Linked DNA regions of Homo sapiens: region 2 is linked to region 1. Evidence: fine-mapped expression QTL. A gene starts in region 1. The other region holds a variant in brackets. All regions are shown on one strand. Distances are from middle to middle. Region 1 holds the start of LINC02977 (long intergenic non-protein coding RNA 2977). Region 2 holds the start of SUSD1 (sushi domain containing 1).

Region 1 (14,456 bases):
TCACAAGAGTTCAGAATTTCCCTCGTCATTCCAGCCTACACACCACCACCTGACTTGTTTCTAAACTCAGAACTGATTTTGTTTCCTCTGCTTCTGTGGTCCTCCATTATTTTTCAGTTTGGCTTCCAAGTCCTCTATTTGACACAAACATACCCTTCTAATTACATCTTTTATTCTTCTCCATTCAAACCAATGTTCCAGCTGTTTTCTGGCTATGGCCCATGCTTTCTCCTCTTAATGTCCTTGCTCATATAATTACTTGACGACTTCCATCTGGATTTCCTGATCACCCACCTGTGAATCTCTGCTTATCCCACCTGTTTTTCAAGATTAAAATCAAATGCCCTTTCTTCCCTGAAGCTTTTTAAATTTTCTCAACAGGGCAGGATCTGCCCTTCTTTGGCTATTCTGCTATATTTTAGAGCAATGGGTGTGCACTTGTTTTGTCTGTCTTCTACTACTAGATTTTACACCCTTGAAGGGCATTTGAAGAGGAGGAACAGAGCCTGGCATGCATTAGGTGTTCAATCAGAATGCACTGAATTGGGCTGAATGATTACTGAGGAAGCAGCAGTTAGTTTTATGGGAAATGAAGCATAGGAGGTGCAATACTTATCAAATAAGCCAGAGAAGACTTACATCAGGATATAAACCTAGTGTGTATGTATACATATGTATTTACTGTATATGTACATATATGTGTATATATGTACATATATACATGCACACAATCATTTTAAACCTTTATAGTTGTGATGGGAAGAATTCTAATATGGTTCCCAAATTCCTTGTCTTTGGTATACATCTACCTTCTCTCAGTTATTCATTCAAAGACTGTTCTAGGTATTGCTGTGAAGGGATTTTGGAGATGTACTTAAGCTCCCGAATAGGGAGATTATCCAGATAGGCTTGACCTAATCACAGGAGCCCTTTAAATCTGGATCTAGAGGTCAGAGATAGGGGAAGTTGGAGCTTCAAAGAATGAGATGGATTTGACATAGGGAAATTCTCCTGCAGCTTGAAGATGGAGGGGTCCACATGGCAAGGAGTGCAGCTTAACAGAAGGAGCTGAGCAAGGCCTGGCTGCAGCCAGTAAGAAAATGGGGACCCTAGTCCTATAACTGCAAGTGTCTTAGTCTGTTTTGTGTTGCTATAACAGAATACTGGAGGCTGGGTAACTTATTAAGAAAAGAGGTTTATTTAGCTCATGAGTCTGTAGGCTGGGAAGTTCAAGAGCATAGTACTGCATCTGGCCTGCTTCTGGTGAGGGCTACATGCTCACCAGAACAATGGTAGAGAAGTGGAAAAGCCAGCAGGTATATACAAAGAGATCATGTGATGACACAGGAAGCAAGAAAGAGTCTAGGAAGTTGACTCATTTTTATAACAACTAGCTCCCTGGTAATACAGCCCCTCCAGAGCAAGAACTCACTCACCTCTGAGAGAGGGCATTAATCTGTTCATGAGGGCTCCAACCCCATGACCCAAATAGTTCCCACTAGGTCCCAACTCCTGACACCACCACATTGAGGATTAAATTTCAAGTGAGTTTCAGAGGATATAAACTCAAACCATAGCAGCAAGGAACTGAATGTAGCCAATAACCTGAATGAGCTTGGAAGCAGCTTCTTCTCCAGAGCCTCCAGAAAGAAGTTCAGTCCACCTGAGACCTTGATTCTAGCCTCGTAAGGCCCTAATACGGTTTTCTTCTATGTACCCACCCAAATCTCATGTCGAATTGTAATCCCCATGTATTGAAGGAGGGGCCTGGTGGGAGATGACTGAATCATGGGAATGAATTACCCCCTTGCTGTTCTCGTGATAGAGTTCTCATGAGATTTGGTTGTTTGAACGTGTGTAGCACTTCCTCCTTTACTCTCTCTCTCTCCTGCTCTGGCCATGTGAAGACTGTGCCTGCTTCCCCTTCACCTTCTGCCTTGATGGTACATTTCTTGGGGCCTCCCTAGCCTTGCCTCCTGTACACCCTGTGGAACTGTGAGTCAATTAAACCTCTTTTCTTTTAAATTACCCAGTCTCAGGTAGTTCTTTATAGCAGTGTGAGAAGGGACTAATACAGGCCCTGAGCAGAGAACCAGCCACAATGTGCCTGAACTTACCACCCACAGAATTCTGAGCTCATAAATGGGTTAAAGCTACCTAAGTTTGTGGTGATTTGTTAAACTGCAATAAAAATGGAATATAACAGTGTTGCTAATGTATCAAGCATTAATCTTTAAATTAATCTTTAAACTTATCTTTAAATTAGTTTTCCACTTTGATTTCCTTTGCCATCTTTGGCTCTGAATGGAATTCAAGTGAGAAGACCCTAGAATAGCAAAGAGAAATTTAACACAGTAAATAGAAGTCACTGTGCTAATTATTATTTTTATTATTATTTACCATTTGGAGAACAGAATTGGTGCTTTCAGGAAGTGACCATGCCCGTGTATATTCATGAAAAAATGTCCACACCCATGGAGCGTCCTCAAGCTGTCACAAAGTCTGAGAGTAGAAATAGGGCCTTTCTAACTTCCTCTTCAGCATGTGATATTTCTATCAGGGAAGGGGTTAAAGATAAGTCCAGCAAGGCCCCATCACTCCTCCTGAGCACTAGCTCTCTTGAGGGAGCCACCATAAAGAGAATGGTGAAGTTTAGTCTTAATGGACTTACTTTCTCCAAGATTGAGTAACTGATGTGGGATATAACACATGAGTGATTCACTTGGGTTTGTAAAAAAATATTCTACAAGTGATTCAGAAGAAAAATAAACATGGTTCTCTGGCATGAGACCATGGAAAGGTAGGGTAACCAAAGGATGGTGAGGCTATAAAAAATACAATTCAAATTTGCCAGTTGTAAATTTTCTTATTAAGGAATTAATGAGGAAAGTCTCTAAAGAAGCTTGTGTGGCAACACTTGTGAGCACTCTTGATTAGATTGACTCAGATTTTTAGAGTATATATGCAAAGTAGACAAAAAGACATATAACCAGGAACTGATCTACCAGCAAGAATCATTCCTGGAGCCAAACCCAAATTGTGCTATGCAGAATAAATAAAGATCATTTTCCAATACTATGTCTAGAGTAAGGAATAGTTGTGCCCAGGTAGATCCTGCTGGTGGATGGTCAAGTGAAAGTCAGCTTCCTTAACTCCTACTTAGCTTTTGTCCTCTTCGTTTGTGAGGGGATAGTTAGAAGAAAGAAAAGAGCTTGCTACCCTACATAGGTTCAAGTCTTCCAACATGGATGTAGCGTATTCTGGCAGGTTCATACAATTTTCACATGAGATGGATAAACCATTGCAAATGATCTTCAATAAACCTTGAAGAAAATGGAGAGATGTAAGAGGACTAGAGATGAGCAAAGAACAAGGAACTTTGTACAAAGGAAGAACCACCAGAAGTGTAGATGATGGTAACTTGAAGTCAAGGCAAAGCAAGGTCTTCAAGTGATGGCTTGTGTATCCCTGGTAGAAAAAACAGCAGTTCCCGGGAGTCAGGAGCTTTAAGAGCAGATTAGGTCAGATTGCTTTCCATTTCTTCTTGCACAGAGTCAGTAATTGGTCAGGGAAATATGGCACGCATAATAACAATAATGTCCTTGTGGACAATGTGGGGACATGAGAGCTGTATGTGGGCTTAGAAACAAGCTGAATGGCTATGCACAGTTGATATCAACTCATTAACAATTATTGATGAGTTGAAATCAAACCCAAGAATATGCATGATATGGATTTCTGTCCACAGTCATCTTCAGTTCAACATATTCATCAATCAGTGATTAAAATATACAGAGGGTTAAAGTGTAGAGGAAAAAATACACAGAAAAAAACTTGATGTCAGAAGTTGGAAGGAATACTGGGTAGATCGGATGAAATGCCAGTGCAGTAAAGTACCAGCTCCCCCGTTCATCTCCAGAATTGTATTTTCTCTTAAAAACAAAACAAAACAAAACAAATCTAGTTAATTAGTCCACCAAGATGGCATTTAAAAAAATGTTTCTGAGTCATGCACAAAGATGGCATCTTAATGCCTTAATTTGCATTTTTATTACTTGTAAGAGAGCATTTGCTCAAAGTTTTATTGATCATCTGTAATCATGTTTTTCATGTGATTTACCTTTTCGTAGAATTTTCTCATTTCGCTATTGAGGTATGTCTTTATTAATCTGTAACACTCTCTGTATGTTAACTTCTTGCCCATTATTCTAGATATTTTATCCAGCTTGCCATTTGCCTTTTAATCTTGCTTATGGTAGTTTTTGGTATAAGAAGTGCATGCTTTTTAAAGTGGTTAAATCTCTCATTCTCTTAAGGTTTCTGTGTTAACGAATATGCTTAGAAATTTCTTACCCCCTTTAATATTAGGTAAATATTCACTAACATTTCCTAATCCTTTTAGGTTTCAATTTAAGTCTGTAATCCATCTGGATTTTATTTTGATATATGGTGTAAGCTCTAGTGATCAAAATTATTTGATTCTAAATGGTTAGCCAATTTTCTCAGCACTGGTTATGAAAAATTTATCATTTCCCCAATGATCTGAAACAGTATCAAAACAACAAAAACAATAATAATTAACAATAGCTAACATTTGCTTATTGCTTATTCTGTGCCAGGCACTGTTTCAACCTGTACTAACTCACTGACTTCTCCCACTACCTAGAGGTGGGTAGTATTGCTATCATTCCCATGTTATTACAGCATCCCTCAGTGTGGGGACTGAGACACAGAATGGATGAATAACTTGCACAAAGTCACACAGGCAGTGGTGGTGTTCAGATAAAGACTTGGACATCTGACTCCAGTATTCAAACTTTGAAAGTATTTGATATGCTTGGATTTGTTTCTAGGCTATTTTGTTCCAATGTATTCATTCCTATTCTAATACTGCACTGTTTTACTGTCTTGCAATTCAAGTCACTCTCCTAATATTTTTTCTTTACTAATTCTTCACTTAATCACTGTTTCTCCTTCCATTTTATAATCTAGTTTCTTGGCTGGGCATGGTGGCTCATGCCTATAATTCTAGCACTTTGGGAGGCCAAGATGGGCAGATCGCCTGAGGTCAAGAGTTCGAGACCAGCCTGGCCAACATGGTGAAGCCCTGTCTCTACTAAAATACAAAAACTAGCCGGGCGTGGTGGAGTACACCTGTAGTCCCAGCTACTAGGGAGACTGGGGCAGGAGAATCGCTTGAATCCGGGAGGTGGAGGTTGCAGTGAGCCGAGATCATGCCACTGCACTCCAGCCTGGGTGACAGAGCAAGACTCTGTCTCAAAAAATAATAATAAATAAAAATAAAATAAAACAAAATAAGTAATCTAGCTTCTTAAAGTGTCAAGGCCATTTTTCTTCTATAGACTAAAAGCAACCAAATAATATAAGCCATGTTTTCTAGAAAGGCTCTTGGCAGCATTTTTTGAGAATTAGTAACCGCCCAATGAGTTTTCCTTGCCTGCTGCCTAGACAGAGCTGATTTATCAAGACAGAGGAATTGCAATAAAGAGCTTAATTCACACAGAGCCAACTGTATGGGAGACTGGAGTTTTATTATTACTCAAATCAGTCTCCCTGAAAATTCAGGGATGGGGTTTTTAAGGATTACTTAGTGGGTAGGGGGTAGGGGATGGGGGGGTCAGTGAGTCAGAAGTGCTGATTGGTTGGGTTGGAGATGAAATCACAGAGTCGAAGCTGTCCTCTTGCACTGAGTCAATTTCTGGTTGGGGGCCACAAGATCAGATGAACCAGTTTATGGATCTGGGTGATGCCAGCCGATCCATGGAGTGCAGGGTCTGGAAAATATCTCAAGCACTGATCTTAGGTTTTACAATAGTGATGTTAGCCCTAGGAGCAATTTGAGCAGTTCAGAATCTTGCAGCTTCCAGCTGTAGGACCCCTAAACCATAATTTCTAATCTCATGGCTAATTTGTTAGTCTTGCAAAGGCAGTCTAGTCCCCAGACAGGATGGGGATTTGTTTGGGGAAAGGGCTATTATCGTCTTTGTTTCAAAGTTAAACTATAAACTGAGTTCCTCCCAAAGTTAGTTCAGCCTACGCCCAGGAATGAACAGGGGCAACTTGGAGGTTAGAAGCAAGATGGAGTCAGTCAGGTCAGATCTTTTTCACGGTTATAATTTTCTCGGTTATAATTTTTAAAAAGGCGGTTTCAAGTTCTGCAGGGCTGTTTAACACAAGGTGTATTCTATGGCTGGTTTTACTAGTGCCAGGTACTGTACTGAGTTTCCAATAGAAATGCACTCCTCTTAACCTGGCTGTAAAGACCTGAGTTGTACTTAGCCACTCCCACCTTGGTTCCTTAAGGGAATAATAATAGTACCCAATGTGAAGGCTGGTTAGAAGCCTAAATGAGTGAATATTTGTGAGGTGCTTGGAACAGTGTCTGGCACATAGTAAGTGCTAAGTAAGTGTTTGCAAATTAAAATGAAATTTTTGCTCTAATCTAGAACATGATTCTCTAAGTCAGTCACTTGGCCCACATGTGCAACTCAACTGTGAGTGTTTTTTAGTTTATAATCGGGGATCTCCCTGGAGTTGGCATGTGATGGTCCCCAAATAGAAAGTATGTCTTTCAAAGTACTTTTATCCTCTCAGTAAACCTGCTGACCTGAGCAGGGAAGTATGACCCTTGTTGAGGTATGGAGAAAATGACAGGTGACTCAACAAAGGATATTCCTTTGCTCTATCTGACCATCAGGGCTATCAGTTTTGGAAACCAAATTCAAATAATATCATAATGACTTGTCCCTCCATGCAAAAGAAAACGGCCCATAAAAATCTATCAAATGTAATTGATTGTGAGAGGACCAACAAAAAATGTAACACGTTGCATAGTATTTGTGTGCTCAACAAGATTAGCTGTTTTCTCCCTTGTAACTTTAACATGGTCTGGCTTTACACTTCCTTTTCAGAAATACCTTGTAACTGTAATTTCCTGAGGCTGCATATCCACAGGGCCAACTCAGGGGACACACAGGCATGTTGGGCATTCTTGGGATTCTTTGTTAAATGGGGCCAAGCTCTGGGTTAAAATGGATTGAGCACAGTGGGGTGTGTGCCTCCTGGGAGGTGGTGATGCCGTGCACTCTGGGCTAAGCCTGTGGTTTTGTCCCACAGATTCGTCACTCATGCTGCTGCAGATGGCGGGTGTTGGACTGGGTTCCCTGGCTGTTGTGATCATTCTCACATTCCTCTCCTTCTCAGCGGTGTGGTATGTGAGGGTGTCATTTTTGAGAAATGACTGGAATGGAGGGGAGGATGGGTCAGAGTCACGAAGAACAGCTGGGGATGAGGGGAGTCAAAGGGAGTGTGGGTGGAGGTTGTCCTTGGCTCAGCAGAGCACACTCAGCGGTGAAAGGCATGACTAACCCTGTACCTCCAGGTAGCATGGGGGATGCCTTCCCAGGAAAAGAGCAGGACCAGTGATGGCTGCCCTGGCCACACACAGAGGGGTGGCTGAGCTTCCATGCTGCTCCCCCTCGCCTCCTCCCATGGGTGTGCGTGTGAGCTGTGCATAGAGATGCACAGTGGGAAAACCAAAGTGTGTTCATATTTGTCTCTTTTCTTTTCCTCCTCCATGTCTAGATGGCAGATGGACACTGAGTGGGGAGGATGCACTGCTGCTGGGCAGGTGTTCTGGCAGCTTCTCAGGTGCCCGCACAGAGGCTCCGTGTGACTTCCGTCCAGGGAGCATGTGGGCCTGCAACTTTCTCCATTCCCAGCTGGGCCCCATTCCTGGATTTAAGATGGTGGCTATCCCTGAGGAGTCACCATAAGGAGAAAACTCAGGAATTCTGAGTCTTCCCTGCTACAGGACCAGTTCTGTGCAATGAACTTGAGACTCCTGATGTACACTGTGATATTGACCGAAGGCTACATACAGATCTGTGAATCTTGGCTGGGACTTCCTCTGAGTGATGCCTGAGGGTCAGCTCCTCTAGACATTGACTGCAAGAGAATCTCTGCAACCTCCTATATAAAAGCATTTCTGTTAATTCATTCAGAATCCATTCTTTACAATATGCAGTGAGATGGGCTTAAGTTTGGGCTAGAGTTTGACTTTATGAAGGAGGTCATTGAAAAAGAGAACAGTGACGTAGGCAAATGTTTCAAGCACTTTAGAAACAGTACTTTTCCTATAATTAGTTGATATACTAATGAGAAAATATACTAGCCTGGCCATGCCAATAAGTTTCCTGCTGTGTCTGTTAGGCAGCATTGCTTTGATGCAATTTCTATTGTCCTATATATTCAAAAGTAATGTCTACATTCCAGTAAAAATATCCCGTAATTAAGATTGTTCTTCCCTTGGTTAATTTTTCTGTTACTAAGCGTCTTCTAAAAATGCTCTTTGCCCCCTGTTAGAAACTGAGATTTGGTGGTAGTGTAGTAGCAATGCTTAAAACAGTATTGAGCCCATGGCTAGACTAGAGTCCATGTGTGTTTCAGGGGAGGGGTTGCCATAGAGGGTGACACTTCTTTTATCTAAACTTCAGTAACTATGAATGTTACTCCATTATGAACTATGAAACATTAGATATAAGCGGTGCTGGACCTACTGTGAATATGCTAAGTTGACAGCTGGAGTCTATTTGATTTTACTTTTAAATCATGAATTGGCATTCTTTCCTCTTTTTTTTTTTTTTTTTTTTGAGATGGACTCCCACTCTGTTGCCCAGGCTGGAGGGAAGTGGCGTGATCTCAGCTCACTGCAACCTCTGCCTCCCGGGTTCAAGTGATTCTCCTGCCTCAGCCTCCCATGTAGCTGGGACCACAGGGCCCCCCCACCACGCCCAGGTAATTTTTGTATGTTTAGTAGAGATGGAGTTTCACCATGTTGGCCAGGGTGGTTTCAAACTCCTGATCTCAGTTGATTCGCCCACCTTTGCCTCCCAAAGTGCTGAGATTACAGGTGTGAGCCACACGCCCGGCACTAACTAACAATTTAACTCCAAGACTCAGTAAGAAACGAATGGGGAAGGAAAGACAGAGGCTTCTGGCATCTCTCCTTCTCCCTTGCCTGCTAGGCCTAGAGAAGAAAAACCATGGAGGAGGGGAGGTGATACTGCACAGCCTCAAGATGCAGCATAGACGAATGCAGTCCTTAGCAAAAGGAAAGGGCTTCCCAATGCAGTGGGCCGGTGTGTTCACCGGCTTGCTGGGTGTCAGTGAGGGAAGACTCTGAGTGCCTTGGGCTTATGGGCAGATGAAGAGACAAGAGGAACAAGTACAAACTGCCCATGTAGCTGCTCCACCCCAGGGAGTCCAGAGTGTATCCGCTCTATTGGGAAGAATTAGAGAGAGGCGAGTAATATCCTGACATTCAGGTGTTCAATGCCAGCTGTCAGCCTCTGGCCCCTGCCAGTGTTAGGAATGATTCCCCTGTCCTCTGGGGTACTGCCCTCCGACGACAACTTAGGATCAGCATTTAAAACCCTTTCTGCTCTCGTCTTAGGTAAATTATAGACCAGAACGGGTCTATAATGGGGACAGGTCCCCATCCTAACCCCCAGAGACCGTTTCTCTCAATAGATGAATACAAATAGCTCTCAATTTTTAATTTTTATGTGCAATAATGCAAACATACTTTTTTTTTTTTTTGAGACGGAGTCTCACTCTTTCTCCCAGGCGGGAGTGTAGTGGCGCTATCTCGACTCACTGCAAGCTCCGCCTCCCGGGTTCACGCCATTCTCCTGCCTCAGCCTCTGGAGTAGCTGGGACTACAGGTATCCGCCACCGTGCCCAGCTAATTTTTTGTATTTTTAGTAGAGATGGGGTTTCACCGTGTTAGCCAGGATGGTCTCGATCTCATGACCTCGTGATCCACCCGCCTTGGCCTCCCAAAGTGCTGGTATTACAGGCATGAACCACCACGCCTGGCCGCAAACATACATTTTTATAGCTCCTGAACTAAATTGGGTATCAATACAAATTACTGTGGTTAGTGTAGGGCTCGGCCTCTGATGAGTGAGGATCTTTCCTCAAAGCCCACCTTTGTCCAAAGAAAGAATCTGAGCCTCCCCTTGACTTATTTTATTTTTTGCCAGTTTTGTAAATGCTGTATGCTTCCATACTACCCCCTTCCCTAATTTCCACCTCTAGAATTAACTGCCAGAGATACAGTTGTCCACATGGAATGTAGTATAATTGTGATAGAAAGGAAGAAATCCCCCTTGCTTAGTATTAAAAGTTTCTGGTTAAAATAACTGACTAAATATTAAGTAAAACATCACCTTCTGGGTACAATGCAGAAAAGTAAAAGCAGTTCATATAAGATTACTAAACTTTGGGAGGTCTTCAAGACCAGCCCTGGCAACATAGCGAGACCCCATGTCTGCAAAAAAAGTTTTAAAAATTAGCCGGGCATGGTGGCGTGCACTTGTAGTCCCAGCTACTCAGGAGGCTGAGGCAGGAGGATCGCTTGAGCCCAGGAGTCTGAGGTTGCAGTGAGCCGTGGTGACACCACTGCACTCCCGCCTGGGTGACAGAGTGAGATCCAAAAAAATTTACTGAAATAACAAAAACGTGGACTTTGGGATTTCCTCTAACTGCTGCAAATTATAACACAGAATTGCTCAGTGTTAATACTTGAATTGTGGGGCCAAGTCTTCTGGCTGCCCTAGTTCTCTTTTCTGGCATTTGAAAGCCCTTGAGCTAGCTATGGAGCTAATCTTTGGACAGGCTTTTTGGTTCCCAGGAATGTCATGCCTTTGAATTTCCAATCTATATATATACAGTGTGTGTGTATGTATACCTGTCTTTTCACTGTAAGGCACCTCCACCCATCCCTTATAGAAGGAGCCACAAACAATCAAGCAAATGGATGGAGGTTAATTAAGGGGAAGAGGAAATAGTCTGTTCTCTGACTCGAGACCTGAAATTGCAGTGGGGCACGTAAGGTAAGACCAGAGCAGAAGTGATTATCTTGAAATTCCACTTTAGCTTGGAATAAAATTAATATTTAAATTGATTTTAAAGGAAATAAAAAAGAACATTCAGTGTTCCCTTTTCATTGCTAATCTCACATTTTCTGATTTTCTAAACCTTTTGTTTTCCCATTCTTTTCTTCTAAGAGGAACTCAATGGTCTCATAGAAGTCAATCAAATAGCGTTGTAAGAACCTTTTACCTACCACATCCTTTGTTGGTTAGACTGAACCAACAAAGCAGTGCCTGCTTCTGGGGAGGAAGGATGTGGCCTTTTCTGTGCCCCAGTTTGTGGGAGGGTGAGTCCATGAAGCAAGTCAATTTAAAAGGCAGTGTGTGCTCTTGTTTCAGAGAGAGTGAATCCTTTGGGTGGTGGTGGTGGAGTATGTGTGTGTGTGTGGTGGGTGGGGGGTGGGGCATGCACATCTAGATCCATACTTTTTGGGCTCAACTCAGGGTTACCAAAATAGAGTCAAACTCAACTCAGGATTACCTAAATGGAGTCAAATTTTGTGTGTGGTTTTGTAACATGATTCTTTCAGTCATCATTTCCAGGCCACATTTTTCATGTCACTCATGACTGCATTATAAGTTTGTACCATAATTCATTTAACCAATACTCTGTTGTGCATTTAGAATATTTTCAGATGTTTATTGTCCTTATAAAAGTCAGTATGAAGGTATGCAATTATCACTTAGGCCACATTCCTGGAAGTAAAATTGTTGGAATGGAAACTATGTACATTTTACAGTGCAGATTGCTGGAAGAGTTTTATGCAAAAACTTATACAAAAATTTACACTCTTACCAGCAGAAAGCCTCAGCGCCACTGAGTGCTGTTGTATTGTTAATCTTGATTAATCTGGTATGTGAAGAAGGATGTTTCAATGTTTTGTCTGTGTCTCTCTGATTATTTTGCTTGTTGATTGGCCAGTTGTTAATTCTGTCTTTGTGAGTTGTCTTTTTCTCAGTACTTGGCCTATTTGTCTTTGATTTGAAAAAGCTCTTTATGTTGTAGTCATTTTAATTCCTGTCATATGTTTTGTAAACAATTTTTCGAGTTCATAATTTTTCAATCTTGTTTGTATTATATTTTGCCACACAAAAATTTTAAATTTGTATAGTCAAATTTATCAGTCTTTTTCCTTATGTTGGACCTTCTAATCTCAAGGTACTAAATATAATCTAGCATTTTTTTAAACATTAAAAATTTTTAATCCATCTATAATTTATTTTAGGATAGGGAGTGAGGCAGGGGAAGGTATCTTTTTAAATAAAAATCGTTGCTAAATGGTTGGCTAGTTGTCCTATTAATAGTCATTGAGACCAGGAGCGGTGGTTCACCCCTGTAATCCCAGCACTGTGGGAGGCTGAGGTGGGAGGATCACTTGAGGTCAGGAGTTCGAGACTAGCCTGGGCAACATGGCGACACACAATCTTTACAAAAAATAAGAATTAACAGAGGCCAGGCTCAGTGGCTCACGCCTGTAACCTTTGGGAGGCCAAGGTGGGTGGATCACTTGAGGCCATGTGTTCAAGACCAGCCTGGCCAACATGGTGAAACCCTGTCTTTACTAAAAATACAAAAATTAGCCAGGCGTGGTGGTGTGCACATGTAGTCCTAGCTACTTGGGAGGCTGAAGTGGGAGGACCCCTTGAACAGGGGAGGTTGAGGCTGCAGTGAGCCATGGTCATGCCCTGTACTCCAGCTGGGTGACAGAGCAAGACCCTGTTTCCAAAAAAAAAAAAAAAAATTCATTGACTGTTTTTTTCTGTTAGTGATTTGAAATCATATACTGAATCATATGCTGAAGTCTATTTCTGAACTTCTTCTTTTGTTCTACTGATCTATTTCTGTGCCAATACCACCTACTGTAACTTTAAAATAGGTTTTTGTTTATACCAAGTAAGAATAAGTTACCATTATTTTTCCATTAATTTTTTTTTTTTTTTTTGAGACAAGGTCTCACTCTGTCACTCTGTTGCCCAGGCTGGAGTGCAGTGGCATGATCTCAGCTCACTGTAACCTCTGCCTCCCTGCTTCAAGCTATTCTCCCACCTCATCCTCCCGAGTAACTGGGACTACAGATGCGTGCCACCACACCTGACTAATCTTTATATTTTTAGTAGAGAGGGGGGTTTCACCGTGTTGGCCAGGCTAGTCTCGAGCTCGTGACCTCACGTGATCCTCCCGTCTCCGCCTCCCAAAGTGCTGGAATTACTGGCATGAGCCACCGAGGCTGGCCTGAGTATTCTAGTTTATAACTTACAAGGTCATTCATATGTATATGTTGTTGTGCTTGTCTAGCTATTTTATATTTTGTTATTCTGAACTCTTGGCCTCTATCTCAGCTCCAGCCCCTGAAAGTGCAGGAGTGCTTTTGCTCTGCCAGTCGGCCTTTTTTGGGAAATCATATCAAGATGGCTTTTCCAGCACAATTACTTCCTAGAGTGTCTGCTTGATGCATGGAAACTCATAGATTTTTGGCATGCCAAACAGAGGGTTTTCCTGCCGTCACTGCTGGCTCCAGCCACAGACTTCAGTTTTCTTACCTGTTAGAGCCTTTGTCCTCTGACTGGTGGAAATGGAGCTTGCTTCTTTTTGTTTTGCCTGCCACTAGTCTGGCAGCCTCCACCTCTTGACCCTTGGGTTTCTTATCCTTGGAATCAGATACGAGGCCCTGTGTCTTCTGTTGCTGTAGAGGACACAAGTCATATTCTCTGAGTGGAGATCTCTCTGAAGCTCCTCTTTCCAGGCTTGTACTGAGGGACCTCTGGACCCTCTACCACGTGGTGTCAAAGCTGCCAAGAGCTGTCATATGCTGGGTCTGTAAATTGACTTTCTCACCTCTGACCAGATGCATTCACTTGAGCGGCACAGAGATTTGGGGGAGTGAAAGGGCACTGTTTCTTTGGGTCCGTGGGCTTGTGTCCCATCCCCTAGCCTTGGGGTTAGCAGGATTCAGAATTTATGAGTGTGGTCTGCAAAAGTCTACCTCTACCAGATGGGGGAGAACCTAGTGTGTGGACCTGAAGGGTTAGCTCTGTGCTTTAGTCCCTGGGAGTGGCCATCTTGAGTCTTGGTGGGCTTGGCAAGTAAGGAGACATTGACCAGATTCAAAGCTTCCAGAGGTGGTGAGAACTCCAGGGCCGAGTAATGGAGAGTACAAAGGTCCTTCTTGGCCCCCATGACCCTTCCAAGCCAAGAACTTGGCAGTAGCTGTGAGAAGCAGAGATAGGGAGAGGAGGTGAGGGGCACCTATAGCTCTTAGCCATGAGTTATGACTCCCTCCATCCAAGGGAGACCCAAGGACATGAAAGGGGACTCAGTTCCAAGGATCAGAGGGAACTTGGGTTGTTTTGGGATAATGACTGTGGCTTGGGATGTCACGGAGATGAACACCAGAATTGGTGTGCAACAGATGAGCTCCAGTACCCCTGATAGTTTGCATGGGTTTTGCTCTGCTGATGATGGTCAGGGACAGCAGTGAGGCCCTCTACAATGCCGCC
Region 2 (16,783 bases), 140 kb before region 1:
ACCATGTTGGCCAAGCTGTTCTCGAACTCCTGACCTCAGGTGATCCACCCTCCTTGGCTTCCCAAAGTGTTGGGATTACAGGAGTCAGCCACCGCGCCCAGCCTCCATGTTTAAACAACCATGTGAGCAAGTCGGTACAATGTGAAGCATCATTGGAGCCCTGGAGACAGTCAGTGTGGGAGACAGTCACCTGAGGATATATGATCCAGGAATCAAGCCTTTGAATGAACAGGAAATAAGACATGTAGAGGGATGACTAATTTGAAGATTTTCTACCCTAGCTTGTTCCAAAGATGCACAGGTGAGCTGAATATTAATACCCACTGGCAACCCAGAGCTGACAGTGATCAATTCCAATTTTTCCTTCCTTCCCCAAATATGTAGAACACTTACTAGGTACCAGGAATTTTGCCCAGATGCAATGATAGCTGGTGAATGTGGTACACTCCAGGTCCTTGCAAAACTTATAAGTTAATGGGAAAGACTGACAAGACAGACAAGTAAGTGACAGTTTAATACACGTAGTAAGTGCTAAATGTGACATATAGGGGACTTTGGAAGTAGAAATGTATATGGAGACATGAGCAGAGACCTGATTATAAAGGGTCTTGTGTGCCATGCTGGAGATCTTTTTTTTTTTTTTTTTTTTTTTTTTTTGAGATGGAGTCCCACTCTGTGGCCCAGGCTGGAGTGTAGTGGCACAATCCCAGCTCACTGCAACCTCCGCCTCCCAGGTTCAAGTGATTATCATGGCTCAGCCTACATTTTATATATATAATGTAAAAATGGAAAATGCTAAAAATGTAACCAAGATACTATTGAAGAAAAATAAAACCAGAAGATTTTCACTACCAGATATGAATTACAATAAAGCAACAGTACTTAAGACAGTGGTATTAAAGCAAGGATAGACAAATTGGTCAACGGAATTGAATAGAGTTTAGCAGCAGACTCCACACATACCCAATCCCCTGATTCATAATGAAGGCTCCTCTGCAATTCTTGGGGGGCAGGGAGAGGGGTATTTTCAATAAATGATGCTGTAACAATTGGATATCCACATGGGGAAAAATGAACTTCACACTATACATAAAAATTAATTCCAGATGAATTTTAGAGCTAAGTGTGAAAAGTAAAATAAGAAGTTCTACAAGTTTACTCTAGAAGAAAACAGAATAACTTCATGATCGCCAAATAGGCAAAAATTTCTTAAACAGAACACAAAAGCACTAACCATAGAAGAAAACATTGATAAATTACCTTCTTTAAAGTTAAGTTTATTCATCAGATGACATCATTAAGAGAGTGAAAAGGCAAGTCATACGCTTGGAGAAGATATTTGGAATACATATGTCTGACAAGTGACTTAAATCCAGAATATAAGCAAACTCCAATAGATCAATGAGAAAAAGATAACCCAATTTTACAAAATGGACAAAATATGTGATAGCATGTCTTAAAAGAGGATTTCAAAATGGTCAATAAACAAATGTGTTTAATGGCTGGGCACGGTGGCTCATGCCTGTAATCCCAGCACTTTGGGAGGCCAAGGCAGGCGGATCACCTGAGGTCGGGAGTTCGAGACCAACCTGACCAACATGGAGAAACCCCATCTCTACTAAAAATACAAAATTAGCCAGGCATGGTGGCACATGCCTGTAATCCCATCTACTTGGGAGGCTGAGGCAGGAGAATCGCTTGAACCCAGGAGCTGGAGTTGCAGTGAGCCGAGATCACGCCATTGCGCTCCAGCCTGGGCAATAACAGCGAAACTCCATCTAAAAAAAAAAGAAAAAAAGAAAATGTGTTTAATATTTTTGGTCAACAATGAAATGAAAATAAAACCACAATAAGAGGCCCCTATACACACATCAAAGTTGCTAAAATTAAAATGACTGACAAAACCAAATGTTGGCAAGGACATGGAGCTGCTGGAACTCTCTGCATCAGTCATGGAAGTGTGAACAGCAGCTGCTTTGGAAATTTGTTTGGCAATACGCCTAAAGCTGACCATTTATAAATCCTGTGATCCTGGATATTTACCCAGCAGAATAAACACTGTACATACCCCCCAAAACATGTATTAATACAAGAAGTTTCATAGCAGTTTTATTTGGAGCTAAAAATGGACAATTGTCCAAATGTCCATCCACAATGGAATGGGTAAGTAAATTGTTGCATATACATGTTTGCATTGGACTATTACACAGAAATGAAGAAAACAAACTTCTACTGATAACGACATGGATGTAACTCTTACAGATACAATGATGAGTATAAAAAGTCACAAGCAAAAAAATAAATAGTGATTTACTTTGCATAAAATTCAAAAGCAGGCAAAACTAACCTATGGTGATTATACAGGTTGGAACATTGATTACTTATGGAGGACTGACTGATAAAATATATGAGGGAGCTTCCAAGGAGCTTGTAATGCTCTGTTTCTTGGCTTGGGTGGTGGATATTTCGTGTGTGTTTAAGTACAAATTTATAAGCTATATACTTAATATTTGTATATTTCACTGCATGAAAGTTACATCTCAATTTTTTTTTTTAATGGAGGCCGGGGGTGGGAGCAGAATTACTTGAAAGCAGTACTGGAAATCCAGGCATGGTATTATGAGAGCAGCAAAACAGGAGATTTGCTGAAAACATAAAGCAGATGTGATCAGACTGATAAAAACATAACAGAGCTGAGGCACCCACAATCTCATGAAAGCAGAAAGAGAGCATCTCCAAAATAGTACATTTTCCCATTAGAACTCCAGAATTATCTCAGGTTCAGAGATAGCAGAGATGGGAAAAGGAACCGGTAGGATAGTGAACTGGTAATTTATTCATGAGCTACAAACGTCTTCACCTATTTTCTGTTTTAGAAGTGGCTAGTTCTGAATTTTTTCCCCAAGGGATAACTTTATTTATTTATTTATATTTTATTTATTTTGAGATGGAGTTTTGCTCTTATTGCCCAGGCTGGAGTGTAGTGGCACGATCTCTGCTCACTGCAACCTCCACCTCCTGGATCCAAGTGATTCAGTGATTCTCTTGCCTCAGCCTCTTGAGTAGCTGGGATTACAGGTGCCTGCCACCACGCCTGGCTAATTTTTTGTATTTTTAGTAGAGATGGGGTTTTGCCATGTTGGCCAGGCTGGTCTTGAACTCCTGACCTCAAGTGATCTGCCCACCTTGGCCTCCCAAAATGCTGGGATTACCATGACCAGCCCAAGTGATAACTGTAAATGAAGCTTATTGCTTACCAAATAAGATGAGAATAGTGATACAAAAGAGGCTCCCAGAGAAGGCACTGGGGCCAGAGAAAGTATGGCAACCAAGAAGGAGGTCTCAAATGCACTCTCTTTATCTCCCCACTCCTACCTCCTGCTTTGCACAACCACTGGAGCTAGAACCACTGTAAACAAATCTCCATTTACTCCTAAGAAAGCAGAGATTCTCACCTGGAGAAATATAGCCAAATTATTGATTCCATTTTTTTTTTAACTCACCTGTATTAGTCCATTTTCTTTTCTTTTTTTTTTTTGAGATGGATTCTTGCTCTGTTGCCCAGGTTGGAGTACAGTGGCTCAATCTTGGCTCACTGCAACCTCCACTTCTGAGGTTTAAGCAATTCTCCTGCCTCAGCCTCCTGAGTAGCTGGGATTACAGGTGGGCGCCACCATGCCCGGCTAATTTTTGTATTTTTAGTAGAGACTGGGTTTCACCACATTGGCCATGCTGGTCTTGAACTCCTGAGCTGGTGATCCGCCTGCCTCAGCCTCCCAAAGTGCTGGCATTACAGGCATGAGCCACCACGCCTGGCCCCATTTTCATACTGCCATAAAGAAATACCTAGACTGGGTAATTTATATAGGAAAGAGGTTTAATTGACTCACAGTTTTACATGTCTGGGGAAACCTCAGGAAACCTACAATCATGGCGGAAGGGGAAGCAGGCACATCTTACATGGTGGCAGGCAAGAGAAGAGAAAGTGAAGAGGGAAGAGACCCTCATAAAACCATCAGATCTCAGGAGAACTCACTCATTATCATGAGAATAACATAGGGGAAACTGCTCCCATAATCCAATCACTTCCCTTCCTGGACATGGACACGTGGGGATTACAATTGCAGATGAGATTTGGATGGGGACACAGAGCTAAACCATATCACCATCTGATTCATTCTCATAAACTGTTAATTCATAACAGAGGAGACCCTCATGTAGAAATAAGGACAGTCAAAAATCATGAAACACTTGAGGAAAACCAGCAGAAGAAGAGTCATCAAACTCAACAAGTAAATGAACAACTTCCTGATAAAACAGAAGTCATTACAACTACAGAAAAAAAAAAGCCATTCTATACAAAGAAGCAGAGTTCTTAGAAATTAAAAGCATGATTGCTGATATAAAAATATTTCAGCAGATGAAATGAAGAGCAGAACGGCATGGATAAGGATCAAATTCATGAACACAAAGTTCACTAAATTGAGTTATGGCAATCTCCCACATTCAGTAAATGAAGGCAAAGAAAGTAAAGAGTCAAAGAAAAATACTAACAGCCATGGAGGCTAGAGGCAAGTGTTAAAAAATTCCCAGCCAGGCATGGTGGCTCACATGTGTAATCCCAGCATTTGGAAGGCCAAGGAGAGAGGATAGCTTGAAGTTAGGAGGTTGAAGGCAGCCTGGGCAACAAAGTGAGACTCTATTAAAAAAAAATTCCCATGCATTCCAGAAGGGATAAATAGAAATAATTGAGGGAATGAAAGAATCAAATAATTAATAGAAAAAATGTCTTTCCTGTAGAAAGCCTTAATTCTACAAATTGAAAGGGTCCATTGAGTGCTAGGCAAGAATAATGAAACATTATATCCTCATGAAATTTCTGAATTCCCAGGATAAAGAGAAAATCCCCCAAAGCTTGGTAGATATGATAGGAGAATGACATGTCACCTATAAGGGGTTGATAACCACAGTAGCATGGGACCCTCCATCTGCAGCACTCCATCTGAATCTGGAATTCTAGACCACATTAACCTATCACTTAATTATTTTGAATCCAGAATTCTATATTCTGTTAATGTATAATTAAATTATGGGGTTCGGTGCGGTGGCTCATGCCTGTAATCCCAGCACTTTGGGAGGCCGAGGCAGGCAGATCACTTGAGGCCAGGAGTTTGAGACCAGCCTGGGCAACATAGCGAAATCCTGGCTCTATTAAAAATACAAAAATCAGCTGGATGTGATGGCGCATGCCTGTAATCCCAGCTACTTGGGAGGCTGAGGCACAAGAATCGCTTGAACCCAGGAGACGGGGGTTGCAGTGAGCCAAGATTGGGCCACTGCACTCCAGCTTGAGCGACAGAACAAGACCCTGTCTCCAAAAAAAAAAAAAAAAAATTATGAGGGCAAAATCAATATGTATTTGGACTTGCAAAGATTCGAAGTTTACCACCCAGGAATACTTTCTGAAACAGATACTCAAAGACGTCCCCAAAGAAGGTGAAGGAGGAGGAGAAGTGGGAAAAGAGGAAGACATAGGACATGAAAAACAGTGGCGAGCAAAGAAACCAATAGAGCTTGTAGCTAAGTCCATTGCAAAATAATTGAGTAAAGTATTTTTGTTTTGAAGATTGCACTATTTGCCCAGGTCGATGATACGGGTCTTCACTGTGAGCTGGTCTCTCTATCAGTGAAGGTCTGGAACCATCCGCCTTCACAGCTGTTGTGGCTTCCTCAGCGACTGTGCTGCTCATTGCTGATTTGGTCCCCACTGCCTGGCCTGCTTCTCCTTAGGGCTGTGGGTGGCTGATCCTGGGTCCGGAAATGGGCTGTCAGCAGGCTTCCTTTCAGGGTTTGTGGAATAAAAACACCAACAGCTGAGGCTTTTGCAAGTGAGGAAGGTGATGCTGTGTGTGTGTGTGTGTGTGTGTGTGTGTGTGTGTGTGACAGAGACAGAGACTGGGTGACACAGCCTGTCTCACTTGGTGTTGTCTCCACCACCTGAGGTCGGGGGAGGATAGGTGAATACTAAGCCTGCTGCTCCTTGAACTTGTCTGTTGCAGTGTCTGAAGTTTGCTCCCAAATCCAAGTCCAAATCTAAATCTTGCTGCTGCCCCAGCTTCTGCTGGGGGGATCACAGGGTCTCTTGAGTCCATTACAGTGAGGAGAGAGAGCACTATTGTAAAAATAGGGAGTCCAGGACTTGTCCCCTAAGCTGAGCTGTCCCTTTCCACCCATGCTTGTTTTGCTTTTCTGAGAATACTAGCGTTTTGGGTAAATTACACACTGGTTGTAGCACAGCCACGTGCAGCAGACAATAGTGCACTTGTTGCCCAAGGTCTACACACTAACTCCAGGTAGGGTGTTTGATGTATGTGTGTGTCTAAAGGGAGGGAGAGGTATGCTGGAGAAGGCAGAGTAATCCTACTGTTTCTCCAATAGCAGCAAAGTATCTGAGAGTCATTAAGCTTCAAAAAATGAGAAGTTGGCCTTTGTTTGAGTTAGAGACTTCATCAGAAGGGCATTTCTCCAGAGGGACAGGTCCTTCTTATCAGCCTTTACAAATCTGCTTGAGATGATGACTCCATTCTGGGAGGGGTAATGTGGCTTCTTTGAAGGTGGCCTTGGGGTTTTCACAGATGTCGAGTCAGCCAGGGTTAGATGAGGTGGGGGTGGAGCAGACTGTTACAGAGGGACTGTTACTTTGTTTCAAACACACAAGTTTTCAGCCAATATACTTCAAAGGCTTCAAATATTTAAATTATTTCTGTTAATGCAAACTTCAGGCAGTAAGTGCAACCCCAGAGTATATTAAACTCATTACAATTAGATATTCAAGCCATTCCTAAAAAACCCACATATAAACAATTTATTTACAATTTATGGGAGGCTGGGGAGGGAGGATTGCTTTTGCCCAGAAGTTGAAAGTTGCAGTGAGCTGTGATCACGCCACTGCATTCCAGCCTGGGCGACAGAGCAAGACTCTGTCTCTAAATAAATAAATTAAATTAAAAACAAAAATAACAATTTGCAAGCCTGCCAGGAGCTGTCCCAAAGCAGTCTCTGTAATCATTTATGGTCAGGAGTGTGGTAAGCAAGAATGGATTTTTTTCCAGGAGAGTCCCAGGATATTTAGTATCCAATCTCCCTCCTCGATTCTCCTTCTGGCCTTGTAGCCAGATGGGAACCCACTGGACAAACCCCAAACCTCTTCACACTGGAATCCGACACTGAGAAGAGCAGCTTGGGGGAAAATCTCCCTAGAGATACTGAACCAGTGTTCAGAATGAAATTTTTTGCCTGCCCTCTGCCTTCCCATACCCATGGCTCTCCAGAGTCCTCTCAGAGCTCTCCCGAAATCCCATTCACTTATGTCTCAGGAATATTGGGAAAAATGGGGCTTTCCAAGATATCTTTCTTGTAAACCTGATCCCATATAGATTTGCCAGAACCAAAACTAATTTGGAAAGTCCTTAATATTTGCCTATTTGATAAAATAAAAATAAAAATGGGCATAAACGTTTTTTGTCATTGAATTTTTAAAAACGATTTTAAACTTTTTTTTTTTTTTTTTTTTGAGATGGAGTCTTGCTCTGTCACCCAGGCTGGAGTGCAGTGGCGCGATCTCGGCTCACTGCAACCTCTGCCTCCCGGGTTCTCGCCATTCTCCTGCCTCAGCCCCAGAGTAGCTGGGACTACAGGCGCCTGCCACCACGCCTAGCTACTTTTTTATATTTTTAGTAGAGACGGGGTTTCACCGTGTTAGCCAGGATGGTCTCGATCTCCTGACGCCGTGATCCACCTGCCTCGGCCTCCCAAAGTGCTGGGATTACAGGTGTGAGCCACTGCGTCCAGCCAATTTTAAACATTTTTAAGGCTGGGTGTGGTGGCTTATGCCTATAATCCCAGGACTTTGGGAGGCCGAGGTGGGTGGATCATTTGAGGTCAGGAGTTTGAGAACAGCCTGACCAACATGGTGAATCCCCGTCTCTACTAAAAGTACAAAATTAGCTAGGCGTGGTGGCATGTGCCTGGAATCCCAGCTACTTGGGAGGCTGAGGCAGGAGAATCGCTTGAACTCGGGAGGCAGAGGTTGCAGTGAGCCGAGATAATGCCATTGGACTCCAGCTTGGGCAACAAGAGTGAGACTCTGTCTCAAAAACAAACAAACAAACAAACATTTTTAAGTGTACAGTTCAGTGTTAGGTCCATTCACATTGTTGTGCAATCACCACCACTATCCATCCACAGAACTTTTTTCATCTTGCAAAACTGAAAGTCGATACCCACTAAACACTAAGTCTCAGCCAGGCATAGTGGCTCACAACTGCAATCCCAGAACTTTGGGAGGCTGAAGCGGGAGGATCCCTTGAGGCCAATAGTTCAAGACTAGCCTGGGCAACACAGCAAGACCCTGTCTCTACATTTTTTTTAAAAAATTAGCTGGACATGGTGGCATGTGCTTGTAGTCCCAGCTACTTGGGAGGTTGAGGTGGAGGGATCGCTTGAGCTTGGGAGGTCAAGGCTGCAGTGAGCCATGATTGCACCACTGAACTCCACCCTGGGTGACACAGTGAGATCCTCCTGTCTCAAAGAAAGAAGAAGAAGAATGAGGAGGAAATGGAGGAGAGGGAGAAGGAGAAGAAAGCTTCTTTCAAGTTCTTTTTTAGAAAATGCTGGTATATTAACCATGCTCTCTTGAAAGAACATTTTTCTTAAGTCAAATACTTTGTCAGCAATAATCCCACTGTTCCTCCAAACTTAACACTGGTTCAAGATTCTGTTTTAATTCTTGTGACAAATACTGTTGGATGAGGAGATAATTTTTCATTATGTGATCCAATGAACTCACCATTGAGTAAGAAGTATTGTTTTAACCAAAAATATGTATTTGAAATTTAAAAATGAGCCAATGAAAAGAATTGATGAAAGTCAAGCAATCTAATGTGGAATATAGAGTAAGATGGATTGTCCTGAAATATAATTTTCAAAAAGTTGAAAACATGACTTATGCAACTATAAGATGAAAACATATCTAAGATTCTATTCAATTGATTAATGGAGGACTCAGTAAGTTGTTGATCTCAAAGGAGAACTAGCAAGATGTTAAGGTTCAAAGGAAAATCC[A/G]ACATCAGGAATGATCACATGAATTTGCTAATAGGTGCCAAACTGGTTAACTAGTTAGTATCATATAGGACAAAATGAAATTAGTGGGTTTAACTTATTTATTTTCTGGCAGAAAGGACTGATCACTTATATTTCTCTTGGAAAACATTCATTTTCACTGCTATGGACATAAATCTTTTACATTATCATCAGTTTTCGGCAAGTTAACTTCTAGCCCTCTAGTGCTGCAAAATAGCCTAGTCAATAGGAAGTCCAGCGACGGTGCACCCAGCACCCCACTGAAAGGATACCCAGTAATCTCTTTTGCCCATTTCCAAGTTTTGGACAAATTTTCCTGACATTATCAATAAAAAATGTATATACATATATACTTAAGTTTATTTATTTTGCAAGGGGCCACAGTGGGGATGAAGTGGTATAGGCTGGTTAAAAATCTTAAGTGAATGGTATATTTGTTGAAACAATGACATGATTTCCAAGTTTGAAGTTTATGGAGAGCTGAACTTAAAAAATTTGTCTAAATAATAGAGACACACCGTCCATCTATTGCTCCCCAAACAGGTGCCTGTCTTTGTTGATCAAAAATAATTTTCAAGAAAGCCTGCTAAGAAAAGAGCTTGTGAGGCCAGATGCAGTGGCTCACTCCTGTAATCCCAGCACTTTGGGAGACCAAGGTGGGAGGATTGCTTGAGCCAAGGAGTTGGAGACCAGCCTGGGCAACATAGCCAGATCTTGTCTCTACAAAAAAAATTTTTTAAATGAGCCAGGCATGATGCTGCGCCCCTGTAGTCCCAGCTACTGGGAGGTTGAGGCTAGTGGACTACCTGAGCCCAAGAGGTTGAGGCTGTGGTGAGCTGTGCACTCCAGCTTGGGCAACAGAACAAGACCTTGTCTCCCCAAGAGGAAAAAAGAGCCTAGGAAGATGAGCTTTTTCTTTGTTTGTTTTTGTTTGTTTGTTTTTTTAAGAGAGGGGGTCTCACTGTATTGCCCACATGGGCCTTGAATTCCTGGACTCAAGCAATTCTCCTGCCCTTCAGCCTCTTTAGTAGCTGGGACTACAGGCATGCCACACTTCACCCAGCTTGAAGTTGATTTTTAACTACTTGTTAAGACTCCACAACTTTAGCCCTTATATGGGTGTGTTTGAAAGTGGTGAGATTTACGGCAGGCTCATGGCAGAGAGTAAACAAGTGAGGATATGGGGTGAAGTAGTGGGGTGCCTGCTCTCGGCTGCGCTCCCACAGACATCACAAGCTCAAAGCCTTCAAACCGGATCTTATTTATTTCCTTCTCCCCGACTAGTCATAAAACCTAGTGGATTCCACTCTTACACACTGCCCTCTTCACACTCATTTGTCAATGCCCAGCTGCAGGACACATCTATCTCTATCTCTATCTGTCTGTCTGTCTGTCTGTCTGTCTATCTATCTATCTATCTATCTATCTATCTATCTATCTATCTATCTATCTATCTGTCTATGGAGTCTCACTCTGTCGCCCAGTCCGGAGTGCAGTGGTGCGAGCTCGGCTCACTTCAACCTCCGCCTCCTGGGTTCAAGCAATTCTCTCGCCTCAGCTTTCCGAGTAGCTGGGATTACAGGTGCCTGCCACCGTGCCCACCTAATTTTTTTTTTTTCAGTAGAGACGGGGTTTCACCAAGTTGGCCAGGCTGGTATCGAGCTCCTGACCTCAAGTGATCCACCCGCCTCGACCTCCCAAAGTGTTGGGATTACAGGCGTGAGCCACCGCACCGGGCCAGGACATGTCTTCTATTGCCTGATTCCTGCAGCAACTCCGGGCTGGACTCTTTGCCTTCCACATCCCAACCCAACCCCAATCCCAATTCCACAGAACAGACAGAGATGTGTCAGTGATGAAGTCATTCACTGCTTGAAACTGTGACAGCTTCCCGGCGACCTCCATCACTTGGGTTAGGAGGGCTAACTTCCCTCTGCAGCTCAACGCCCCTCTCCAACCCTCTGCTCTCACTCTAGGTCCCCATTCCCCATTTCTACAACAAACTCCCGCTTAGATTCCTCCCCAACGTCCTTCTCATCCTTGGGTCTTGGTTTACTCCTTCCCTTGGGATGAGTACGGCTGTGATGGAGGTAGGGGCTGGCATCAGCGCGTCCCAAGCCGGGTGTCCTCAGAGCAGCGGGGACTGATGCCAGCCCCTCCCTCCATCACAGCCCTACTCTCTCTCACTCCCGGTGACCAGGTGTCACCTGGTCAAGTGTGTCGCCCCTGGGTGGCCTGGGTCTGCGTCTTCCGACCTCTCATCTGGGCCTTGCGCTGTGGTCACCTCATCCAGCTCCCTTTCACGTCCTGGAAGATTTCCGCCCCTTGCTCCCCTCACCCCTCTCCCCGGGGGTGCCTCCCTGAGCCCTCGAGTGGCTTGAATCCTCCGCAACATTTCCTCCCCAGCACTCTCCGGGGCTCTGCGTCCAGCTGTGTCATTATCCGATGAGTGTCTGTCCCCCTTTGCGAATGTGAGCGGCGAGAGGGCAGCAAGTGCGGAGCCAGAGACGGACGCGGAACGGGCGTGTCCTAAGCCCAGGCCCCGACAAGAGGAAGGACCCGCGCTCTGCGGCCTCCCGGGGACCCCGCAGCGCCCCCCGCTTCCCTCGGCGGCGCCGGAAGCCGCCGGCTGGTCCCCTCCCCGCGGCGCCTGTAGCCTTATCTCTGCACCCTGAGGGCCCCGGGAGGAGGCGCGGGCGCGCCGGGAGGGACCGGCGGCGGCATGGGCCGGGGGCCCTGGGATGCGGGCCCGTCTCGCCGCCTGCTGCCGCTGTTGCTGCTGCTCGGCCTGGCCCGCGGCGCCGCGGGAGCGCCGGGCCCCGACGGTGAGTGCGGGCTGGGACGGGCACGGGCGGCCGGCGGGGCCCCCGGCTGGGCCTCGAGGACTCTGGGCGCACGGACGCTTCCCCGCCCCTGGGCCGGGCCGGCGCGGTGCCGAGGCGTGGGGCGCAGGTGGGGCCCGCGCCGGCCGTTGGAGATCGGCAAGGAGGAGCTCAGAGAAGCGGGGGGCTCCCCGCCGGGCTTCCCTGCCCCCGCCCGACCCCGCGACGCCGGGGGACGCCGGTTTTAAGGCGGCCTGGCCGGGCCCCCAGGGACCTCCACTGCCCAGGAGGCGGGGTGGGGGCTGGGCGCGAGCGCGGACCCGGGCAGGGCGGCGCCCGGGGAAGGGCGGGGAGGCCAGGGCGTTCTGCGGCGCTGTCACGCTTCCGGCTCTGCGGTGGCTTTTGCATGACACATTTTTGACCCGAAGCAATTTTCTTACCACTTTTAATTTTTTCACGTTGTTAGAGAGCCGGATGCTAAATATGGTGAGAAAGACGCGTAAGGAAGAGTACAGGAGTGAAGCCATTAATTCACTCATTCATTCAACAGATGGCCCTTGAACAGCTTCCCTGTGCGCGATGAGGGCGGGCAGTGCGGGCCCTCGTGGAGCTCATTGTCTGGAGGATTTAGACCAGCAAATGTTCTATTTCCAAGCAATCGAGGGAGTTGTTTTTCCTCCTCTGCAAAATGCAGTGTTGAGCTGAGTAGGAATTACACAGAGGATTCAGACACGCAGGGGAGGTGACATTCATCCACATAACTGTAATACAAGGCAGAATGGCATGGGTGCCATGAGAAGGTGTGGGTGGTGAGGGCAGGGAAAGGGGAATCGGTGGTGACCCTTGAGCTGGGCCATCAATGATTGGTCATATTTGGATATGGGAAAATGTGAAAAAGGTATCCCAGCTCATAGCAGAAGGCACTGTCACCTCTCCACAAATGAGTGTAGAATGAATGAATTCCTTCAGAATTCAGGCCCGGGGGAGAAGGGAAGGAAGCACACGGAGGCACCAGAGGCAGAGGGCAGAGTGCCTTGATTGGCAGACCTAGGCCTTTGGACTTAGCTGTGCCTGGAAGCCACTGGAAGCCGTCTCAGGGAGTGACAAGAAAAGTGGGTCTAGCCAGTTCTAGGCGCTTCGGGAGCCACAGGTTACAGTGCAGACATGGCCAAATCCAAGCACCACACCACACACAACCAGTCCCGAAAATGGCACAGAAACGGCATCATGAAACCCGGATCACAAAGATACGAATCTTTTAAAGGGGTGGACCCCAAGTTCCTGACAAACATGCGGTTTGCCAAGAAGCACAATAAGAGGGGCCTAAAGAAGATGCAGGGCGACAGTGCCAAGGCCATGAGTGCACGTGCTGAGGCCTTGCCCTCATAAACCCCAAGGAGGTTAAGCCCAAGATTCCAAAGGGTGTCAGCTCTTGCCTACGTTGCCCACCTCAAGCTTGGGAAACGTGCTCGTGCCCGCATTGCCAAGGGGCTCAGGCTGTGCCAGCCAAAGACCAAGGTCAAGGATCAAACCAAGGCTCAGGCTGCAGCTCCAGCTTCAGTTCCAGCTCAGACTCCCGAAGGAGCTCAGGCCCCTACAAAGCCTTCAGAGTAGAGATCTGTGTCTGCCAACGTGAGGACAGAAGGATTGTCCCCCTTGGACTGCCATCTGCATGGGGCTGATGTCCTCCTTTGCTATTTGTATAAGTAAACTTGAGGCGGGGGAAAGAGGGTCTAAGGAACCCCCATCTTCCTTACTAAAACCAAACGCTGATCCTGAAGTGGAAGGAAATTTCCATGTGATGACATACAAGGAGACTTGTGGTTGAGAATCCTGCCTGCCGCCCCCACCCCCATTCTCTTTGGCTTGGGACTTTTACCATGCCTGATGGGTATTTCAATGGCTTGATCTTCTGGAGTGGCCATTTTTGTAATATTAGGTGCCCTGGTTAAGATTCCTTCCTTGGCTCTATCTCCGAGAACAGTGCGCATAGGACTTGCAGATGCTTGGCGTCTATTTCAGGATCTTCCTGTGATATCTCTAAGGTAGGAAACTGTCCAGTATGATCCCATTGAATTGTTAGACTAAGATGGCTGAACACAGCTAGTAGCTACGTAAGGTCATCTGTAACTAAAGGTTTTGGGGGTGAATTTGGGGAAACAGAAGTCAAGGCTTCCTGGTTGAGCCCCCTCTCCTTATCTAGACATTCTCCCTTCATGTTCAACCTTGGAGAACCTGGTTTTATGAAGGGCAGGTTTCCTGACAGTCGACAATGTAGGGAAAGACTGGAGGCTTGGACAAGCCCATTGAGGAAGTTGTTGCAATAGCTGGCCTGGAAGTTCTGAGGACTGGGCCCACAGTAATGACAGCAGAAACGGACTGAATGTAGACAGTAAGGTGGAAATGGACTGGAAGGAAGGATTTAATAACAGATATGAAGGTGCAAGGGAACAGAAGGGGAAAGATGACACTAAGGCTTGGGGGCTGGGTGACTTGGTATATGTTTCTACGGAAGGAGAAAGATTTGGAAAGAAAGATGATTAGTTGTTTTGGACATCCTGAATTTGAGGTGCTGTTATGGATTTGGAGAGATGAAATCAATAGACTTGATGGTTGCTTGAAACCTTGAAGTTGACAAGATTGGGAGGATGAAAGACAGATCCTTGGAGAGGATTCTTGGAGTTTAGATGGTAGATGCAAGTCGAGAAGGAAGAAGCAGCATCTGGGTAGGATGGAGAAAGACTAGGCTCATTTAGTCAAGGAAACTAGGAGATGGGAAGCCGAGAGGCAGAGATTGAGAAAAAGCCTTTGAATTGGATGGATCTGGTCAGTGGAGACCCAGAGCTAGTAGAGGAGAGAGGGTGAGAGCTAGATGTGAGGGCTCTAGGTTGAGGGCAGAGACCTTGTTTACGGAGTAGATACTCTTTTTTTTTTTTTTTGAGACAGTCTCACTCTGTCGCCCAGGCTGGATGGAGTGCGGTGACATGATCTCGCTTGCTGCAACCTCTGCCTCCTGGGTTCAAGAAATCCTCCTACCTCAGCTTTCCGAGTAGCTGGGATTACAGATATGCACCACCACACCTAGCAAATTTTTGTATTTTTAGTAGAGATGGGGTTTCACCATGTTGGCCAGGCTGGTCTCGAACTCCTGACCTCAAGTGATCTGCCCGCCTCAGCCTCCCAAATTGCTGGGATTACAGGCATAAGCCACTGCTCCTGGCCTCGGAGTAGATACTCTTTAAAGAAATTAGAAGGAAAACGAAGGTAGCATTCAGCTGGGCTGGTCAAGTCAGTCCAAGATGTTTAGAGAATGCAAAACAGACTCAAACATATTTTAGACTGAGGGGTATTATTTAGTAGAGAGGGGAAAAATGAAAAAGCAAAAATAAATGAGATAGTTAATGGACAGAGCAGGTCAAAAATTAAACTTGGGCTATAAGTGGGGGAGGTTAGTTTCTTAAAGTGGGGGGCGAGGAAGAAGATTAGAGGACTGTGTTTCCCTTCTCCCATGGCGGGCTACTTAATGAGTGCTATTCATATTTCAAAGCAAGCCTGGGTGTCCTCACTCCTCCTAGGAAGTCCGTTGCCACTATCCGCTTCTCTTTACAGCACCAGTAATACCATATTCCGTGCCTTGGTTGTACACTTATACCATATTGCAGTGTGATTGTTTACTAAACTAAGAGCTCCTTGTGGGTAGGGACAGTGGCTTGTATTAGGAATCTGGTAGGCAAATAAATGAATACCATCCAAACAAGAATAAGCAAAGGCTATTTATTCAGAACTTGCTGTGACAAGGGAGTCAGCCATCATCACTTCCATTTGGCAGAGACTCAAAGATAGGCTGGGGGTGGAAAAGTTTTACAGTAGAAAAAGGAAGGGGGTTGGGGGTGGTGGTGGTTCAGGTACGCCCAGCTGGAGAAGTTTTCTAGCAGCATGCATCCCATGTGATTGGTGAGAGGGCCATATCTGGCTTTTCTGGTTAGTCCCAAGTTGGAATTGGGGGCAAAAATTAGCGTAGCTGGCCGTTACTGATTAAAGCCTGACCATTTGGGGCTGATTGCTACAGAGTTCCTGGAATGATTGCTGCAGATTGTGGGTTAGACTTCTATTTTAATATATGGGCTGGGTGCGGTGGCTCACGCCTATAATCCCAACATTTTGGGAAGCCGAGGTGGGTGGATCACTTGGGGTCAGGAGTTCGAGACCAGCTTGGCCAACATGGTGAAACCCCATCTCTACTAAAAATACAAAAAAAATTGGCCGGGCCTGGTGGTGGGCGCTTGTAATCCTAGCTACTCCAGAGGCTGAGGCAGGAGAGCCGCTTGAACCTGGGAGGCAGAGGTTGCAGTGAGCCGAGATCATGCCACTGCACTCCAGCCTAGGTGACAGAGCAAGGCTCTCTCTCTCTCTCTCTCTCTCTCTATATATATATATATATATGATCTGGCCATTGTCCATTTGTATATTCAGTCTGTCACTGGCAACATGGGCTGAATGACATTAATTGGCATCAAAGATGTTTTGGGGAGGAGAGCTGAAGTCAGTTGAACTGAAGTCAGATGACCTGAGTGTAAGGAAAGTGTGTTTCGCGTAATTGATATGGCAGGAGGGTGTTGGTGGCTGGGTGGGGTGCAGGGCCCAGGGGAGTCCAGAGGGTAGGAATGGGCGAGGAGGGGTAGAACCAGTTAGTCCTGTTTCTTAACCTTTCTCTGGCATTCGTTGCTAGAGTCAGGCCTGTTGGCTCAGGCCTGGCTGGAGGTCAGGAAGTTGTTCTTGCTGTATACAAAGGTCACCTGACTTCACTCATCATGCATTTC

The links.
Region 2: its variant is fine-mapped to the expression of LINC02977 in whole blood (INTERVAL, PIP above 0.99).

The regions. Positions count from the first base shown.
Region 1 is chr9:112,034,642-112,049,097 of GRCh38, reverse strand. LINC02977 (long intergenic non-protein coding RNA 2977) reads left to right here and starts at 8,674. Exons shown (of 3, transcript NR_186812.1): 1 at 8,674-10,919. SUSD1 (sushi domain containing 1) reads left to right here. Exons shown (of 17, transcript NM_022486.5): 16 at 7,138-7,231; 17 at 7,606-8,315. The coding sequence ends at 7,606. RefSeq lists enhancers at 6,467-6,536, 6,627-6,676, 6,788-7,426, 6,832-8,031, 7,427-8,066 and 1 more.
Region 2 is chr9:112,170,316-112,187,098 of GRCh38, reverse strand. SUSD1 (sushi domain containing 1) reads left to right here and starts at 11,802. Exons shown (of 17, transcript NM_022486.5): 1 at 11,802-11,966. The coding sequence starts at 11,864. It also overlaps the pseudogene RPL29P20. RefSeq lists an enhancer at 5,901-6,050 and a silencer at 11,684-12,343. The variant A/G (reference allele first, on the strand shown) is at 9,124.